4 separate regions of the Homo sapiens genome follow, and regions 1, 3 and 4 are each linked to region 2. Evidence: fine-mapped expression QTL. A gene starts in region 2. Each other region holds a variant in brackets. All regions are shown on one strand. Distances are between the middles of the regions.

Region 1 (5,154 bases), 330 kb before region 2:
TTTTAGTATTTGATGATGGTTTAACAGCCTCCTAGATAATTTTTGTTTTACAATTGAAGGCAACCGGTAGAGCTAGGAAAGGGTGCTTTTGATTAGATGAAACTTTTACTTGGTGTTTAAATCAGAGTTGGCAGCTGTCTGGACCTCAATGTAACTGTCCTTTCTATAACCAGTCATGTTAAAAGATTTTGCAAACATTACAACGAGGAAGGCCAGGTCACGGTGCCTTTGCAGCCTTGTTATTTTTAAGCAGCAACTTTTTAAATTGATGAATTTGAGTTGCTCTTGAGACCTTCTGCGGGTTCTGGAAATGTCACCAGGGTTGACAAGCACAAGGAGTTAGTTACAGTGGCTTTTTGAGAGGCCATGAGTGGACGACACAGCAAGACAGGAAACAGGTGCTGGCAGCCAGCAGGTACTCGATAAATATTGGGTGAATGAATTGACAAGACATTTTGCTTCTCATTATCTCCACACGAGATGAAAAATTTGAGGGGAGGAAGGAGGGGCAGGAGAGGGGCCCCTTAGATGTCTTCCTCCGGATTTTTTGTTAAGCTTTTCCTAGACAGTTTACAGAAGGCTTTGGGTAGAGAAAGCACTAGTTAGACAAAAGCAGCCCCCCTCCCACCTTGTGGGCATGAAGAGTCCAGAGGACACCACCTGAGAAGCTTTTCAACTGCCTTCCAAGGCTCCCTTGAACTTCACTGCGGTAGAGCAGGGACCCCAGACCCCCCCTCAAATCGAAGCTTGGAAGGAGGTGCTCTAGGCTGAATCTGACCTCCCAGGACCCGAGGAGGCAAGCAGATGGCACCCCTTGGAAAGTAGCAGTGCAGGCTGGCTAGAGGCCTGGGCGGTGAGCTAGGACTATGGGGCACCGTGGGGACACGCCCGGAGGCTGCACCAGGGCAAGCGGGGGAGGGGGGGGGCGTCCACTGCACCTGCAAATCCCGCGCCTCATCTTGGCCCCCCTGCAACCCCGCGGTGAAGCCCACGCCGGAGAGGCTGCCTGCGGGGCTGCAGTGGAGAGGGGGTCTGCGGCCGCGAGGAGGGAGGCGGCGAGCCAGGCTGGGGAGGGGGGCGCGGCTGGCGACGGTGCTGTCCAGGGGGAGGCGGGCGGAGGGAAGGCGCTGCCGCTGCTGCCGCCGCCTCGCCCGAAGCGACACAGACGCTGGGAGCGGCCGAGGCGGTGAGTCGCAGCGCCTTCCCTCCGCTTCTCGGGAGCCAGAGCGGAGTCGGAGTTGCAGCCGGGGCGGGTGTGCCGGGGGCGGCTGCTGGGGGGGACCCGTGCGCTCGGTGCGCCGCGGGCGCAGGGGTGGGTTCGAGGAGCGCGCGGTTCTGGGAACCTGGTTCCAGCAGCTCCCTCCTGGGTGCAGTTCACCCTGTCAATTCCTCTGTCATTCCCCCAGTGCCTCTGAGGGAAAACAAAACAAAATTACAGACCTTGAGGGTGGGCGGCAGAAAAGGAGAGAGCAACTTTGCAGAGGGCCGCGCAGAGGCGCGTGGGGCCGGCGGGATGGGGCGCGCTGGGCAGAAGGGGGCGTTGGTGAGCCTGGCGGCCCGGGGACCTCTGGAGCATCCCGCCCCGGGGGCCGGGGCCGGGGCCGGGGGCCGGGGCACCCGCTGGATCCCGGGCCTGCGGAGTCTGCCCGGAAAGGCCACAGGAGGCGAGTGCGGGGCGTGGGCGTCTGGGGAGGGGGCCAAGGGAGAGGCCGAAAGGCGCTGGTTGAACACGGACGAGGAAGTGGTCTGCATTTTGGACTCAGGACCTGAAAGATTCGTGTCCCTTGCGCTCGAGGACTTGGGAAGGGTGTGCTGGGGAGATGTGTTTGAGTGTTTTTCAGTGCATACCGATTTATTTTTAGCTCCCAGAGAAGCAGGATGTGCAAAGTGGGTTGTATCAGCCCGGGAGGGGCAGGAGGTCTCCCTGTCCGCAGGAAATACACAAGTTTTTTTTTTTTTTTTCTAATGCTGCAGATGCTTGCTTTAACTTTTGTGCATGGAGAAAGAATGCCATTTGGCTCTGCAGAGCTCCTGCCAGGGTCAGTTTCTTCCTGCGGGTCTGTCGGAGGCCGCAGGCGAGGC[G/A]GCTGGTGTGCTGCTGTGCTTACACGCTAGCCCCGCAAGAAGGTCTATGTTCTGTTCCGTAGGGCAGCTACGGTGAAACACAGAAGTAGGCAGCCAAGGTCTCACTCTCTCAGAAGGAAACCACACAAGCTCGCTCAAAGTTTTCCTACTTCTGGCTGATTTGAAAATAACAGACCTAAGCCACTGTATTACCAAGAGCAGAGTTTGCTGTCAGGGGTTTCTCAGACCTAAGTGGAAATGCTTGTGAGGTTTTTCACTCCAATTGGGAGATCCCCGTGTTTTATGGCCAAAGGCCTTGATGCAGACTACAAAGGAGAGGGGGTGTGGTGTGATGGTGGGAGTGTGGGTACTTGCGGTAGCGGGGCAAGGACAGATCTGGGGAGGAGGCTCAAGAAACTGAAATTCACATGTTTACCTACCCAAGCCAGATCTCTGGAAATTGTCCTGGAGTCTCCCCTGTCTCAACCATTCAGTGTCCAGTCCTGTAGACCCTCTGTCTGTAACTGTATTAGGAGAGTTGCCAATATGGACATTAGGAGTGTGGGCTCTGCAGCCAGACAGCCGGGTTTGAGCTGTGGCTCATTCGTCAATAGCTCCTGGATCTTGGGGTCCTTACTTAACCTCTACTGTGTTTTCTGATGTGAGGCATGAGGTTGATAATAGATAACAAAGCTATCTCAGGGTTACTGTGAAGATAAAATGAGTTAATACCCAGAAAGCACTAAGCATCATGCCTTGTTGTAAGTGCTGCATAAATGTGAGCTCTTATTATTTTTGTTGTTGTTGCTATACGCCCTCTTCTCTCAGTTCCTGCTGTCACTGACTTAGTTCATATTCTCAGCACTTCTTGCCTGAATTGTTCCAATTGCTTTTGAGCTTGTTGTTCCCAATCAGGACCGTCTTACTCCAGTCCATTCTCCAAACTGTGGACACTCATTCCAAAAACAAAAATCTAAGCCAGTCATTCTGCTTAATTTCCTTTAGAGGTTTTCTGTGGTTTTCAGGATAGAATTCACACTCCAGGGACTTTCACGGTCCCACCCTTCTCTCTTCATTAACCTCATCTCCCAAGCCTCCCCCCACGTAGCCTCTGCTCAAGCCACTGAGTCGCAGCATCTATCATCTCCCCAACCTTCCTTGTCTGGTCAACTCCTATGCATTCTTGGCAGCTCAGCTGCTGCGACACTGCCTTCCAGCAGGCTGCATGGCACTCCCCCTCCCAGAGGTGCCATGCTACCCTGGATGTAGCCCTCGCATCATTCTGCACCATTATCTATGTATCTTTCTATGTACATTATCTATGTATCTATGTATCAAGGCACCTGCATGTGCCTTGAGAGATGGATTCTGATTGTAGGTACATGTTTGTTGAATGAATAAACAAACATCAGTCAAACAAAATCCAGTCCTTTTCACTAAAGCCAGAATCAAACACAGAGAATAATAGACAGAGAGGAGGACCAAACCAAGCTTTATATCTAACACTCTACGATAAAAAACCTTGGGAAATACTAAGGAATCAAGAGTTGGTCAAAAGAAATGTGGCATACTGTCTTGAAACTGATGGGATCCTTGCCCTCGAGGTGTGTCCTTTTAATGGTGAGGGGCAGACTAACAATGAAGAAATGTAACGATCTGAACCCTTCTCTTTCCTTACTTCTCTCATGAAAAGGTCAGGCATCTCAGATGTGGCTGTAGGGGATGGAGGTCCAATTTTTTGAAAGGGTTGTGCAGTGAATTTGGTTCTGGAGGCAGAGGTGAAGTTTATAACACACATGGGTTTTATAGCTTTTCCTTGAATTATGTATAGCATCCCTCAGAATGTGAATTTCAGATTGCCTGGTATTGGTATGATAACAGGAAATCTGCAGTCACCAAAGCTCTTTTGTTACTTTTTGGACTATTCAGTATGTTCAGAGGGTACTTTTCTGACTCAGGCACCCACTCCAAGCTCTCCAACTCCTGGGGTCCCAGGAAGTTGCACGGGAAGATAAGAGCTGCTGCTTCCCTGAGGCAGCCCCAGAGTCTGGCTTCAAAGCTCTAGAGAAGGGATTTTTGTACAACCGAGAGCAAAGAATGAGCTTTATATTTTTAAAGCGTTGTAAACAAAAACACAACACAACACAACAAAACACGGAGAAGAATATGTGATAGGGACCATGTCTAAAATACTTACTACTTAGCTCCTTATAGGAAAATTTTGCCAACTGTTGCAATGAAGCTGAGACATATTGGTTTCATATTGCACATCATCTGACTGGCTGCCTGGAAATCTGGGTCCAGTAGGAATCCAAGGCTGGGTCTGGGCTCAGCAAGAAAGTGTGCTGTGGTCAACTAGTGATGTCTGTCTGCTAGGGAATGGGATTAGGGAATAGTCTTTACCATTCCTATCCTAGAGAATATCATTTGCGGATAATGAAGACAGAAATCAGGGATAGAGCACATGAGTTAAAAGTCCCTAGAAGGCAGGAACTTTCTACCACAACAATGAACAATCACTGCAGTTAACATTGATATTGGCATTTATTGAGTGTGTACTATGTGGCCCTGGTTTACATGGAATACCTCATTTAACATTTATGATAATTTTTCAGGAGATATTTTACTTAGGACTCAATTCTGTTGTGTCAGGAACCCCAACATTCAAACTGTTTTAGCAAAAAAGGAATGTTATTTTGGCTCTGATAACTCCTCAGTCCAGAGGAAGACATTTCGGATATGGCCTGATTCAGGCCTCAAACATTGTTAGCGGGACCTCATTTCTCTATTTTTCTCAGCTTGCTTTCATGGAGTCGGCACCATTTTTAGTACCATCTCATTGAGGCCCCATCTCGTTGTAGGATGGCTGGAAGAGCTCCAGACCTTACATAGTCTGGGCTTTAAATCCAGCCAGAAAGTGGAAGTCTCCATCCCGGCATTGCTCACAATGACTTACTCTGGCTCGTCAGCATTGATTGGGTCCTGTGTCTATTCCTGTGACCAGGGTGCCACATGTTACTAGGCTTGGGCTTCATCACATGTCACATGTTTCATCCTTAGAGACGGGCTGAGAAATAGGAGCAGGGGTGTTTC
Region 2 (5,154 bases):
TTTACCAGTTATTTCTGGCAAAGTGGTCAAACTAATAATAGGCAGCCTTGACATTTTTACAAAGAGTGAAAAATAAGATGCAGAACTATTTTTGAATGGATATTTTTAAATTTGGTGAATCATTTTCACCTTAAAAAATGACTTGTCAATTAGAAAATAAAATGGCACATATTCTCTTCAGTGTAGTGGGCTGTGATTGGAGAAAGCTCTCATGTGTATTTCCTGTGATACTTTCAACTACATTTGGGTTAATTAACCAAATTGGTAGGAATCTGAGCTCTAAAGAGATCACCATCATGCCTTCAACCTCACAGAAGACTGGTAGCTTCCTTCACTCTAAGAGGAAATTCTAAACCTAGGTAGTTTGCAAAGGAAAATGAGTAGGTAGGCAAATTACTTAATCTCTCTCTTCAGTTTCTGGTTGAAGCATGTTGTAGAAAAAAAGGGCTACATGCACCCACTTTTCATTTTGAAGGTCAGTTCACTGCATTTTTTTTTTTTTTTTTTGAGACGGAGTCTCACTCTGTCACCCAGGCTGGAGTGCAGTGGCATGATCTTGGCTCACTGCAACCTCCACCTCCCAGGTTCAAGCGATCCTCCTGCCTCAGCCTCCTGAGTAGCTGGGAATACAGGCATGTGCCACCATGCCTGGCTAATTTTTTGTATTTTTAATAGAGACGGGGTTTCACCGTGTTAGCCAGGATGGTCTTGATCTCCTGACCTTGTGATCCACCGGCCTCAGCCTCCCAAAGTGCTGGTATTACAGGCGTGAGCCACCATGCCCAGCCAGTTCACTGAATATTTTAATAGTTCACTGAATATTTTAATACTGCCCAAGGCAGTATAAAGTATACTTAGTCTTAAAAATGCTAAACCAGTCAAAGTAAAAGTGTTGGTTTTTTGCTAATTTTCAAATTAATCCATTTAAAGTCCTGAATTTTAGGCATTTTTTTTTTTTTTTAGAACTGAGAACTTCTTATTTCAGAAGACATCACCTATTAGCAGAATGTGGCACTGCAGTTTTTCTCTCTTAAATGCTAAAGCTGCATAAAGAGGAGGAAGAATTAATTAGGCAGCTATGGATTAGAGCCAGAGAGATGGTAAATTAAGCAGCTCAGAGAACGTGGGTCCAGGGAAAGCTAGAAGGGTATGTTTCTCTGCCTCTTCCGGTTCCCTCATTTGTATGATGTGCATTTCTGAACATAAAAGCAGAACAATAATTGGAACAAATTGTCAGTTTATGAATTGTGGCTGTTGGTGAAATCTGCCCCTAGTGAGGCTTTAGGTAGACATTGGATTCCATTGTCCTTGTTCAAACAGGTAAATTCCCAGCTGTCATTAATCTGAAATTAAAGGAGGAAAGTTCCTTATAGTTTGATTTCGGTTTTGCAGTGCCACAGCTAATCGCATCAGGAAAATAACTTTTTAAATAAAAATCTATCTTTTCTCCCAATTGGGGCTGGGACAGAAATAAAGGAAGATGAAAAGGAGGATGGAGTAGGACGATTCTATGACCAAGTGATTTGAACATTAGTCTTATTATTAAAGAAGCAATTTCTGATTCTACTAAAGAAATTTCATTCTTTTACAGTGACACAAATGTAATCTGCCTGGCTGACTTAGGTTCCATTTATATTTTGTAGCACCCCAGAGCTACTCTTTTTTATTTATTTATTTATTTTAAGAAACAGAATAGAAGTCGTTATAAGCCTAGCATATAAAGGTCCTTAGGGTTTTGAGGGCAGTCTCTTCTCCCCTGCCTTTTAACTCCTTGTCCTTTGTTTGGGCATACATTTTCTGAATGTCTTTTTCAGAGTACCTTCTTGTGAGTTTCATTGATTTTGTTTAATCGGCTTCCCATTAATTAAGAAAGAGAATTAACTGGGAAATAGGCACGTGTGCAGAGTTAAAAGTAAGCTAGGGTCGTCGTAAAGGAAATAAAGCTGATGTTAGAAAACATGTGAGATAACCCTTTCATTCTATGGCTCTGGGCTTTCATTACACTTTGTGTTTGTGGAACACTGGCCCTGTTTACTCAATGTTGAGTCTCAGCAAAGGGGTGTGGATGAGAGGACTCAAGAGGGGAGCATTTGGCACCCGTATGGCCCCAAAGCACAGTTTTCAGCTTACTCACATGGTTATTTTAAAGTAACACTGTTTTGAAACTCCTTCGGTCCTCATTTTTACCTAGACATTTTACAGTACAGGAATCCTGAATTTATGTTATCTGATGTCTACATCCTACTTGGTGTCAGGATCATTAGACTGTCTTACCTGTCTCTGAGTCATAAGCCACTGTCATGAACCCAAGCCACTGTTTTTTATTTTTCTTTCCATCACAAGCATGGTCTCAGTATATCCATGTAGACTCTGATATAGTTTTTAAAATACATTTTCTTCCAACCCCTCCCCCTGAGCTTCTGTTTTTATATATTTGCTTGCAAATAAGTTTAATTGGCTAAGAAAACTACTCCAGAATTTTTCAGTTTCTTTCCTTTTGTTATAGAGAAAGAGAGAGAGAGAGACATGCTTCATGCTGATGGTAGTGAAACAAATGAGAACTTCAGGGTGGCATATATTTTCCTGCAAGTAACTGTAGAGAAAAGACACCAAAGCCTTAAAGAGGAAAGTTGTAGGCATTCTGGAGTCACAACTTCGGGGGTTGAGGTTGTCAAGGAGCTGTCCGTGATGGTTCTATGGTGTGTGCGTACACACATACTCTCTCTCTCACACACACACACCACAGTGACAGATGACCTATTGAAATAATTTCAGAGCCGGTCTGTGGTTGCTACGACAACCAATGATCTCTTGGCTTTCATCTGGCCATGTGACAGGGACTTTGACGTCAGCTAGAGGCAGAGTCTGTGGCTGAGTCCACACAGTCAAAGGCTTGTGAGAATCTGGTGGATGCTGGACCTTGCTGCTGCTGCTACTGCTGTTTCCAGGGGCTGCAGAGCATGGACTGTTAAATCTTGCACTTCTTCTGAGTGAGGTAATTAGTTTGCTTTATATACAATAGTTAGATGTTTTTATAGCTCATTGTGGTTTTCCCCTCTCTCTTACCTCCTACAAGTTTGTATTCATGAGCAATTATTGTTGTACCAAGGGGAAAATGTGAAGCAGCTTCTAGTTGTGAATTTCAGGCAGGTTCTCTGGAATTTGGTTAAATTTGGATTAATGTTTTGTGAAGTAGGTTAAAATATAATCGTCTTGCTTGCTCAACACTTGCTAACATAACATTATTTAGACATACGGATTTTGCAGCTTGAGCCAAATATTCTCTCTTGAATTCCAGGAATCCTCCCTTCAGTATTGTTTTGGGTTTAAAAACTCCAGCATAGCCTTGCAATGTGTTTCTAACTTTTCTTTTTACAATTGCTACTCAATTCTGAATCAGCCTAAAATAGTTTGGAATTTGGTTTCTATCTTGTTTGCAGCATTCATATTTAGCAACAATAGGAACCACGGGAAATAACATTATAACTGAAACAAAAGTTGGGATTTTGCTTGTAAGTAAAACCTTTGGTATTCTGAAAGTACCAGGAAAAATTGTCAACAGTTTCCTGTTTAGAGAGAAATAATCGGGAATATGCCAAGGAAGTTGGGGTGGAACCTTTTACATGTGTGCATGCAATTGCTTTTTGGTTGTTAGAGCAAAGTGCATATTTCCAGTATCCTCCCCTGAAAATTCAGCTGTGAAGAGAATGGCATGAGGTGGTCTTTACTAAGGAGTCATGTAAGCTGTTGTTATTTTTAAAAATCGTCATAATTACCTAAAGAAAAAAACAATAGCCCTAAAATGAAAAGTATCATTGACACAAGTTCTACTTTAACTCAAACACAGATAGAAGTAGTCACTCACAATTTGCTCTGGATCTTAAATGAATAATTTGATAACTGTGATTAATAAGAATTTTTATCTCTTTATTCCTATAATACTATTTACTACAAATTGTTTTCTTTGTATTGTAGTTCCTTTCCTTCCCAAGTTTAGTAATTTCAGATTTTCTTTCATGACATACAGGTTGAATTGTTTTGGAGCTTCTAATTTAAAGAATACCTGTAGTACTGAAGTTAGCCAAAGTCTAGATTTATAACCAGGTGTCTAAATCTTACAAGTTTAACAGAAAAAGGGGCAAATTTTAGAGCACTACATGTAATACAGCTAGTATTTTAATTAGTAGAAGAAACTGGTTTAACTGTATATATGAATACCATATATTCACAGTGTGTGAATTATATCGTAATTTAGTGCAAGAATATATTGTTTTAATTTTTATGTTCTTTATTAGTTTCAGAATTCTAATAGCATTTATTTTACTCTTGGAGGTGAAAAATTTTGAACAGTATTTAGCTACAGTAATAAGTGAATAACTGTGGGTATATCAATAATTTCTCAGTAGCTTTCAATGAGTGAATATTCATTTAACTTGCTGGCATTTGACATGTCTGTTTTTGGTCAGGGTCTCCGTGGAGGATTTTCCAAAAGTCTAATGTGCTTTCATTCCAGGCACATCTACTGAGACATAATCTCATCACTTAATTGATCTCAAAATTATAATAACCCAGAGGCCATATTCTTAACACCCCTAGAAAAATGATAATTTATATGTAACATTTCAGTTGAGCACAGATAAGACCAGTAGCACCGTCATTTAACAGCACTATCTTTGATGAGGTACACTTTGACATTTACTTCTTTTACTCAAAATGTGGAATTATCATTATAGTTTTTCCAGGTAGCAGAGATTTTCTTGGTGCTGTCTCTATGACATTTTAAATTAAAGTCTTATAATAATTGTATTCAATGCTCTTTCAAAATAGACTATATTTCAGCGGTATGAAATACAAGAGAATAATTCAGCGTTGATGGCAAAATCTCAATGATGAAGTTTATCACTAAAAGAAAACAACCTATGCTGTGAAAGCAGAGATGCTCTAGAATCTACAGGTCTTTTCCTATGGGAAAATAAGAGAAAAAAAGACTGTCATCAGAATCATTTTACAGCATTGAGACTATGTTGATTTCAAGGTCATGTTTGTTGCAGCTTCAAAAGATGCTGGCAAGGAACGAGGTACTCTAGAAACCTGGCTGTTGCATTATTAAATATTTTGTGTATAGTTTCGGACATTCTTAACCCGTTTGGTGCT
Region 3 (5,154 bases), 190 kb before region 2:
CAGATATCCCTTCTCCTTCGGAAAAAATGGTTGGATATTACATACATGGACACACCTTTCTCAGTCAGAGGACAAAAGTAGGAAGTTTTTGATTTTGTTCAAGAAGAAAATGTCTGGCAATTTAGGTCACTCTTCACAGGAAAAATTGGCTTTAAAAACATTAATCAAACGTGCACTTTGAAACACTGCTGCTAGTCTGCCCTTCAAAGAGGAGTGCATGTTGAGAAAAGGCAATAGTCGCCCCGTTTTCTGTAGTGGAAAGAATGTTGGAATAGGAGTGAGGAGATCTGAGGTTGAGGCCATTTCTGCTGATTTGGGGGGCTTATCACTTATCCTCTGAGTTTTACTGTCTTCATCTGTGACATGAAGGTTTGCACTAAATACTGTCTATACCTTTCTTCATACATAATAAATTTAAGATAAACCCTCTGTGTAGGTGGCCTTTAAGATCCCATCTGTCCTATGCAGGTGTGATTCCGGGGACCCCCAGCATATCTAGCAGGGCATCAGCAGCACCTCCCTGCTGGAGAGTCTTCGCTCCCCTCACATTCTTATCAACCCCAGCTGGCTGGCTCAAGCTCAAAATTACCTAATTAGCAATTCTTTCCTTAAGATTAAGCACTGGGTGAGACAAAAATATTCCTGGAAGAATCCTTGTTAGCCATTTGCTATAATTATTTAGTTCTATTAACTAATCTAATAAGCATTAATTCAGTATATAAGCTATTAAAGATACTGAGTTGGGCTCTGGGTGTGTGTGGAGTTGGGTGAGGAGGAGTGCAAAGATGCAAGAGAGATGGCCCTGCCCTTGATGCTGGAGAATGGGCAAAGCTGCATAGAGTCAGATGACAGCTGCAAGTGTTGAGTGCTGTACGAGTTTAAATGGAGAGCGGGATTGCTGGCAGCTGCGGTGGGCAGGGATTTTCTCCTTTTTAAAATTGAGATCAGGTTTGAACATGACTTTGCAAGATGGCTGACTGAACAAAAGACACAGGTAAGAGTCTATGGCTTGACGTGAATCAGAGCTTATAGGTGGGAATAGCCAAGGCATGTTCAGAACCAGTTCAAGGCGAAGCCATAGTACCATAAAAGATGGATAAAGAATATCAGAATGTTGTGGGCTGGGCGCGGTGGCTCACGCCTGTAATCCCAGCACTTTGGGAGGCTGAGGCAGGCAGATTACCTGAGCTCAGGAATTCGAGACCAGCCTGGCCAACATGGTGAAACCCCATCTCTACTAAAAATACAAAAATTAGCCAGGCATGGTGGCACCTGCCTGTAATCCCAGCTACTCAGGAGGCTGAGGCAGGAGAATCGCTTGAACCTGGGAGGCGGAGGTTGCAGTGAGCCAAGATCGCGCCACTGCCTGGGCGACAGAGTGATACTCTGTCTCAAAAAAATAGAAAAAAGAAAAGGAAAGGAAAAAAGAAAGAAAGAAAACTGGATTGAGTTCAGTAAACAAAAAGGAATGATCATTTATTTTTGAACAAGCGAGTGATATACCAATGGCAATTTGAGGAATTTTGTGTGGCGGGAGTGTGCAAGATAGTTTTGAGAGGAAAGAGTCCCTAAGGCTTCCAAGTTCCAACCCTTACTCCTTGAATGTTATTAAATGCGTATTTTAAAAATTTGATCTGAAGATCCTTTTGGGAAGAAATGTTGAGTATAAATAGTCTTTCCAGCCAATATAAGCAGCTTGGGAAGAAAAACGAAATGTTTGAGGGATCCTAACGTGAAGGGACAGGGCTTGGAATGCCCGCTGGTTTTCTGGTCCCAGCAACATTAATGTTCATCCTCTTTCTTCCTTTAATTTTTCTAGCCCTTAAAACAGAGTAAAATGTCAAACTGTGAAAGACCACAACTGCTTTTCTTTGTTATATTTAGCCTTTCACAGTTTTTAAAAATATAAAAGCTATAGAATCTGCCTCATCTCTCATTTCTCCATCCTCTCACTGGCTGAGGACATATTTAACAGGTTTCATATTGGAATTACCAGGAAAGTTTGGGCTGTCTATGGCTGCATTACAAATCACCCTTGAGTCTAGGGGCTTAACACAACAATCACTTCCATACCTCACAAATCTCTAATCTGAGCTGGTCCAGGTGGGAGGGCTCAGGTCTGTTCTGCATACCATCAGCTGGGGTGGGTCGAGTGGAGGCTGGGGGGTCCACCTTCAAGACGGCTCACTCACATGACTGGCAGCTGGGAGCTTGGGCTGGGGGTGGGTCATCAGAAGACCCGGGGTGAGGGGAGCCCTGTCTTCTGTCCACGTGCACCCCTCCATGGCTTGTTGGCTTCCACGCAGCATGGCGGCGGAGTTCCAAAGGTGAACATCAGGGGTTGTAATATGCTTTATGTGAGTAACTTGGGTTGTGCTTTGAAAATTTTCACCCTTTGATTAAGGGATAAGGGTAGGCCCTTAAGCTACATAGTTCTTTAAAATCCATGTCCCTGACTCTGGTGTCCTCTGTCACAGGCTACTTAAAGGGCTGGTGTCCATGGGAGGTATTCCAGCTCCCAAAGTGTGTGGGGTGCCTAAGTTCTCAGCAGAGATGGGAAGTTGAGTCACAGTGATGTGAACTGAGGTGATGGTGGGTACCCCCTGGGTAGAGTTGTCTTGGAGAAGCACAGAATCAATCATTAAATACCATTCTCTGTGACTTAAAAGTCAAGTGCTGGGTTTTCACCACTCCCTT[G/A]ATCTTGCTCAAAAGGAAACTTAATCAAGAGAATGTTGCTGTACTCCGCTTGCTTCAAATGGGTTCTGCGTGGCTAAGGTTACATTTGGTAGCTCTTGGCTTGTCTTCAGTTTCAAATGTAGGGTGAGAGAGGATGTTGTTTGGAGAGTCCTCTAAGCCCTCTCTGCTGATGGAAAGAACGTGTTTCAGTGCTTATTGGCCTCCTAAGTTTCTGAGAGTTGTTTTTGAGTCATTTAGAAATAATTAAACTGGGTTAAGCAAATGCTTTTTGCTTCAGAGCTTCAACATTTATTAGTCAGTTGTCCTGTAGAGCAGGTTTTTGCCCTTATTCTTCAAAGCTCAGGCCATTTATTCTATAAGTGATGCTATCTGATGTCACAATGATATATATTGTTATACTGGTATTTATCAAGACTATGTAATGAAACCCTATGTTGGAAGAAGTCTATGTCTATACAATTAGTCTTGAAAGCAGGAGCTCTTTCCATTGGATGCAGTACCTGGAATTGTGGTATATAATATTTTAATTGAATACAGGATGTTTTTGGCATTAAAATCTTTAGGAAGGTTAAAGAGTTAGAAACAGAGAACTGTCCAAGTAATAAGGAGTGAGCCATTTTTATAAACATCCTGTTCCTTAGGTGCTCATGGTTTGTGGAAACCTCAGGTGGAGACATTTCTGAAGATTGCTAGACTGAAAATAATGTCACAGGGTCCAGGCAGGAAACATAGCATATTCGAGCAGGTGATTCAGGAGAGACCTATTTACAAAAGTGTCAGCATGGTTAAAAGAAACTAACAAAGGATGACGAAAGCACCCTGGGAAGCCACTGTAATCCCTAAGCCTGGAGGGGACTGGGTAGGGCACCAAACTCAGATGTGGGAGGTGCCACTGGACATGGGGCTGTGCCTTTCACAGAGGAGCACATCCACCCACCAGGAAGATGGTGGGAAGAGTAAACCCATCAGTTCCTCTTCTTTCTGATCACCTGCCAAGGAGTTCCATTGGCAAACCTCAACCAAAGCCCAGAAAGGCCAGAAGGCCCATTGCTACGTTCCATAAAATTCAGCCTTCTGGGGTACAGAGCAGTGTGGAGAAGGGTAGGGAGTGGATTTGAAGGAGCCAGCGGAAAGTATCCATCACAACACATACACACAACCCTACAGTTTCGGTTAGTTAATGTTTGTTTCACAAAGACAAGCTCATCATGGAGGCCTAAGTTGCATGGGTGAATTTAACATAAGTTTCTCTCTACTAAGAAAAGGGTGAAAATTCAGATTGCATAAAATTCATCCCAAAATATCATTAGCTCTGGGACAAAGAGAATTTGAAACTTCATATTTCTGGCTTGCTTCAGGCCATGGCATAGGGACGGAGTCCTGGGGTTAGGGAACAGGGGAGGGCTAAGGTATTTAGAAATAACCTTTCCTAAAGAAAAGGAAATCTTAGTTCTGTAACAGAAAATAAGCCCTCGGCAGAGCCCCTGAGATGAGCCAGGGGTGGGGAAGAAGAGAAAACATGCCCATCAATTAGGTGACAGCAGCCCTCACTACCTGGTAGCAGAGGGACAGAACCCCAAAGGTAGATGAACTTCTGTGATAAATGTGCTCAAAAGGGAGGACAGTTCTGAGACTCATTCAGCCTGTATCTCAGAAGCATATGTATCTGGTAGAATGTAGCCGCTTGGGGGTCTAGTCACACTGTGGCTTATTTCTTCTTTAAAAATGGAATTGTTTAGACTCTGCATACTCAGTGGGTTTAGGCTGCCTTTTGGTGCTGAAGCTGCCCAAGATGGAAGGGAAGAGCATGTGTCTGCTAAACCCTTCACAGTTTCCAGTGTATGCTAATTTATTCAAGGTCACAGAACATATGTTACATGACAATGGTATAAGGATTTTTTTTTTTTTTTTTGAGATGGGGTCTCGCTCTGTCGCCCAGGCTGGAGTGCAGTGGTGTGATCACGGCTCACTACAGCCTCTGCCTCCCGGGTTCAAGCAATTCTCCTGCCTCAGTCTCCCAAGTAGCTGGGACTACAGGCGTGTGCCACCACACCCAGCTAATTTTTTTGTATTTTTGGTGGAGACGGAGTTTCACCATGTTAGCCAGGATCGTCTCGATCTCCTGACCTCCTGATCCACCAGCCTCGGCCTCTCAAAGTGCTGGGATTACAGGCATGAGCCACCATGCCCAGCTATGGAATTTTTTATGTATGAGAAATCATAGGAATTTTCAAGGCTATACCCTTTTTTTATGAGAAGCCTAACTTCTTGCACAGTGGCTTTCAACATACAAGGTAGGTTCATAGTATTTTATAGTTTATAGTTAGTTTATAGTTATAAAGTGCTTTGTAAACTGTAAAACTTATAGTTTATAGTTACTTCCCATTCAGTCTGCCTTAATTCCTAATATCCAAAAGGAGTTGGTATATGACAAGCTCATGGCACCTGCTTAAAAGC
Region 4 (5,154 bases), 350 kb before region 2:
TTTTGGAGTTTTTGAAATTTTTTAGTATTCCATTTAAGTTTATCTATTGGCTTTTTGACTAAATCTCTGTGTATCATTTAAATAAAAACTGGTTGTTCTAAGAATTACAATATACATTTCTAACCTTTTGTTTTATAATAATAATTAACATTTTATCACTTTGGGTAAAATATAGAGACTTTTGAACCTTATAGCTTCCTTTATTCTTCACCATTTATGTTACAATTTTCACATGTATTAATCTATATACATTGAAAACCCTACCAGACAATGTTATAGTTTCTACTTTTGACAGTCATGCATATTTTAAAAACACTTAAAAGGGGAAAATTATCTATTATACATTTTTATCATAAACATAACCTGATTTAAATCGCACAACCTGAAATTCATTGTTTCCTTTCTTTCTGTTTCCCCTTCCTACTTTCTAAGATTTGTGGAAACACTGAGCTCAACCTGTCGTTACTCAAATCTTTACTATTTTTGTTTCCTATTTTATGCAACATCCAAGTTAAATAGCCTCTCTCTTATGACACTGTTGATGGGAATGTAAATTGGTGCAGTCTCTTTTGAGGACAATTTAACTCTGCTTATCCTATTTGTAAAATGCATAGTCCTTTTGATCCAGCAATTCTAATTCTATGAATTTATCTTACAGGTATGCTATGGTCTGAATGTTTGTGTCTCCTCAAAATTCATGTGGTAAAATCTGAATCCCCAAAGTGATGGTAGTAGCAGGTGGGGCCTTTGGGAGGTGATTATGTAATGAGAATGGAGCCCTCAAGAATGGAATTAATGTTCTTATGGAAAGAACTCATAAGAGAACTCTTGCCGCACCATGTGAAGACACAGCAAGTAAGTGTCATCTATGAACCAGGAAATGGGCCCTCACTAGACACTGAATTTAATGGCAGTTTTATCCAAGACCTCTTAATCTCCAGATCTGTAAGAAATAAATTTCTGTTGTTTATAAGCTACTCAGTCCATGGTATTTTGTTGTAGTAGCCCAAAAGGACTAAGAGAAGGTATTGTCATATGTGCCCAAGATTTATGTACAAAAGTATTCATTATAACATTGCTTATAATAGTAGAGGGCTGGAAACTCATTTAAATATCCGTCAATCAGGAACTGGTTAAATAAATCATATTATAGCCATACAGTGAAAGACTCTGCAGCCATAAAAAATAAAGAGAACCATGTGCACACATATGGAACCATCTCCAGACATATTGTTAAGCATAAGAAAGTAGGGGCTACAGAATGTTGTGTATAGTATTCTCTCATACATATGCTAATAGATGCATAGAATATTTATGAAACATTTTATAAGAAATGTGTTACTGCATCTGAAAAGGAAGGGATTAGGGAATTGGGAGCATTAGTGGCATAAGGTATAAGGAAGACCTACTTTTTAACATATTCCCTTTTGTATTGTCTAATTTTTTAAAAACCATATGCAAGTATTTTTTCAGTTTGAAATAATAAACGAGACTCTCACTTCTGGCCATAGTCAAGTAACAGAGATTAAATTTACCTTCTTGCCCCAATCGTCTAAAAAACAAGCACAAGTATATGAAAATGACAGTTATCACATACAGAACAGAAAGCACAGGAGAGTGATCTCCCAGAGAAGATAAACAAACAAAAAGAACCTATGATCTACCCCAGCTTACTGCCTGGAGAGTCTCCAGACCAAAGCTCAAGGAGGAGGAACCCAAGTGGAGCTCAAAGCTCTCTCTGACTTGAAGAGACAGAGTTGAGAATTTGGGAGGAGGGGATAAAACACGACTAGAATTTTTAAGGCAGTATGCCTGAGGGAAGAGAGCTTCCCAGAAGGAGAGCTCAAGAGATTCCCGGAGTTCTGGAGACTTCAGCTAAGTATTGCTTACAGCACGAATGTGAAGAAAACGAGGCTGGGGAAAGAACCACCAGAAGAAAAACAGGTGGAACAATCCCTAGAGTTCACACAGAGATGAAAATAATTCATGTTGCCCCAAGCCAGGGTGGAAAAACCTTGCAATACACAGGGCTTTGGGCAGGGTAGTTAAAAGTGTTAGCCTTGGTAGTAGAGAAAAAATTAGGCCTGGAATAAATACTTCTCTTGTCCTGCCAAACATAGCTTAAGAGGATCAAACTGTTACCAAGTTACTTAAAACTCCAGACTATTTAAAGGAATTTAAAGATACCTATAACCCAGAATAGTAAAATTCACAATGTCTGGCATCCAATAAAAATTTTCAGGCATATGCAAAGGAGAAGGAAAACATAATTTACAATGAGGATAAAAATTAAACTATACAAACAGACCTAGAAATGATGAAGGTAATAGAATTAGTAGACAAGTATATCGAAGTAATCATTATAAATATATTCCAGTATGTTCAAGAATATAGAAGAAAAGTATTCATGTCAAGGAGAGACACAGAAAATATATGAAGACTCAAAGTGAAATTTTAGAGATGAGAGATACATTGGACAGGATTAAAACAGATTAGACACTGTAGAAGAAAAGATTACTGAACCTGAAGACATAGCAATAGAAAATAAAGCAAAACACAGAAAAAACACTGAC[CAAAA/A]TAAATAAATAAATAAATAAATAAATAAATAAATAAATAAACAGAGCCATCAGTGAACTGTGGGACAACTTTAAGTAGCCTAATACATGTGTATTTTGAGTCCTCAAAGTAGAGGTGTGTGTGTGTGGTTGAGTACGATATTGAAAAACTAATGACTAAAAGTTTTTCAAATTTGATGAAAAACTTACAGATTGAAAAAACTAAATAAACCTCACATACAAGAAACCTGAGGAAAACTACACGATGGCACATCTTAAGTTTCTTGAAACTACTGATTAAAAGAAATACCTTAAAATTAGCCAGAAAAAAAAAAGACACACAATGGATAGAACAAGTATGAGAGCAGACTTCCTGTTGGAAATAATGCAAGCAGAAGACAGTGGATCATCTTTAAAGTACTAAAAGAAAAACTGTCAACCATTTTGACAATAGAATTTTATACATAGCAAAAATTAATGTCAAAAATGAAAGCAAAATAAAGACTTTTTCAGACATATAAACTGTGAAAGAATGTATTAATAGCAAACTTGCTGCAGAAAGTGTTAAAGGAAGTACTTCAGGTGAAGGCAAATGATACCAAATGGAAATCTGGATCTATTTAAAGGACTGAAGAATACCAGAAATGGAAAATATGTGGGTACATATCAGATATATTTTTCTTATTTTTTAAATATCTTAAAATATAAGTGACCATTTTAAACAAAAATAATGCCATTAGGTTGTGTGGTTTATAACATATGTAAAAGTAAAATGTATAAAAACAGTACAAAGGCTGAGAAGGGGAAATATAACTGCATTGTTGTAATGTTACGCAATATGTGAAGTGGTATATTACTACTTGAGTGTATATTATTATTAATTGAGGGCATATTATTACTATGATAGAGTCATCACTAAAAAAGGCATTCAGTAACAAAATAACTAAAGCCATCACTAAAATCACAAAAGCAATCATATAAAATAAAAGAAGGTGTAGCTAATGAGTCAACAAAGAAAATAAAATGGAATAATAAAAAATAAAGAGGCAGAAAACAACAAAATAGGAACTGAGGTGACAAATAATAAACAAGGAACAAAATGGTAGATTTAAACCCACACATATCTGTAATCATATTAAATGGAAATGATCTAAGCATTAATTAAAAGGCAGAGATTGTCGGACAGGATAAAAAGGCAAAACTCAATGGTATCCTGCTTAAAATAAACCAAATTTAAATATAATAATACAAATTTGCTAAAAGTAAAAAGATTAAAAATATATGATGCTACTACTAATAAAACAAAGCTGGAGTGACTACATTAATATTGGACAAAGTAGATTCAGAGCAAAGACTATTACTAGGAGTAATGAGGATCATTTCATCATGACACACTGGTCAATTAGAGAACATAAACATTTTAAATGTCTATGCACCTAATAACAGAGCTTCAAAATGCATGAAGCAAAATACATGAGAGAACTTCAAGGACAAATAGACAAATTCACAATTACAGTCAGAGATATCAATACCCCTCCCTCAAAACATTTCTAACTTCCCTTTAAACTTCTTTAACCAATAGGTAATTTATAAATGTGTTGTTTAATTTCTGAATATTGGGAGACTTAAATTCCAAATATTTCCAGGTGTGGTGGCTCACCCCTGTAATCCCAGCACTTTGGGAGGTGGGTGGATCCCGAGGTGGGTGGATCACCTGAGGTCAGGAGTTCAAGACCAGCCTGGCCAACATGGCAAAACCCTGTCTCTACTAAAAAAATACAAAAATTAGCCAGGTGTGCTGGTGTGCACCTGTAATCCCAGCTACTGGGGAGGCTGAGACAGGAGAATCGCTTGAACCCAGGAGGCAGAGGTTGCAGTGAGCCGAGATCATGCCACAGCACTCCAGCCTGGGCGACAGAGCAAGATTCTGTCTCAAAAAAAAAAAAAAAAAAATCCAAATATTTAGGGATTTTTCTGTGATTGACTTCTCGTTTAATTCTGTTTTATGCTCAGAGAACATATTTTGTATGATTTCAATTTTTTTAAAGTTGGACACAAAATTCCTGACTACTCAACAATCAGCTCTCAAGACTCCAGCATACTGCGATGGCCTCAAGGTTGGTGCCCAGGACCTTCAGCTGCCTGTCAGAAGGATCTTTGCAGAGAACTGCACTTTGTTCTGAGTGCCACATACAAGATACCTAGAGAATGTTTTGAAGGCTTGTAAGATGAACTGCAAAGATGATAAAATGATCAGTGGACACACTGGAAGTTGGAAGATAACTGATCAACTGTCACTGCCAACATTACTGGTCTGCTTCTTCACATCCATACTTTGGAGATGAAGAGTAGTACTGAAGTAGTACTGTGCTATGACAGTGGACAATCCATTTTAATGAAAACCTCTCTACTCCCCTCCACATACTGAAGTTGTGACTTTGGTGGGGTATGTCAGCGTATCCTTAGCTAGCAAGCATGAGCTATAATCAGACGAAGAGATATTATTAAATACACATGTAGTAGGAAAAAAACATAATCTAGATGTAGGATGTAGAGATATGATCATCCTTGAATGGAGATAAAGGAAGAGACATTTAAA

What was found.
Region 1: its variant is fine-mapped to the expression of NCALD in whole blood (TOPMed, PIP above 0.99).
Region 3: its variant is fine-mapped to the expression of NCALD in whole blood (TOPMed, PIP above 0.99).
Region 4: its variant is fine-mapped to the expression of NCALD in whole blood (INTERVAL, PIP 0.95).

What each region holds. Positions count from the first base shown.
Region 1 is chr8:102,120,269-102,125,422 of GRCh38, reverse strand. It overlaps a transcript of NCALD not described here. Among named protein-coding and RNA genes, the nearest start is that of MIR5680, 2.6 kb to the left of the region's middle. RefSeq lists silencers at 1,087-1,146, 1,517-1,706. The variant G/A (reference allele first, on the strand shown) is at 2,083.
Region 2 is chr8:101,788,703-101,793,856 of GRCh38, reverse strand. NCALD (neurocalcin delta) reads left to right here and starts at 2,888. Exons shown (of 4, transcript NM_032041.3): 1 at 2,888-2,995.
Region 3 is chr8:101,982,296-101,987,449 of GRCh38, reverse strand. LOC104054148 (a long non-coding RNA gene) reads right to left here and starts at 3,018. Exons shown (of 5, transcript NR_126152.1): 1 at 2,074-3,018; 2 at 1-249. It also overlaps a transcript of NCALD not described here. RefSeq lists an enhancer at 2,694-2,883. The variant G/A (reference allele first, on the strand shown) is at 2,698.
Region 4 is chr8:102,141,119-102,146,272 of GRCh38, reverse strand. No RefSeq gene overlaps it. Among named protein-coding and RNA genes, the nearest start is that of MIR5680, 18 kb to the right of the region's middle. The variant CAAAA/A (reference allele first, on the strand shown) is at 2,574.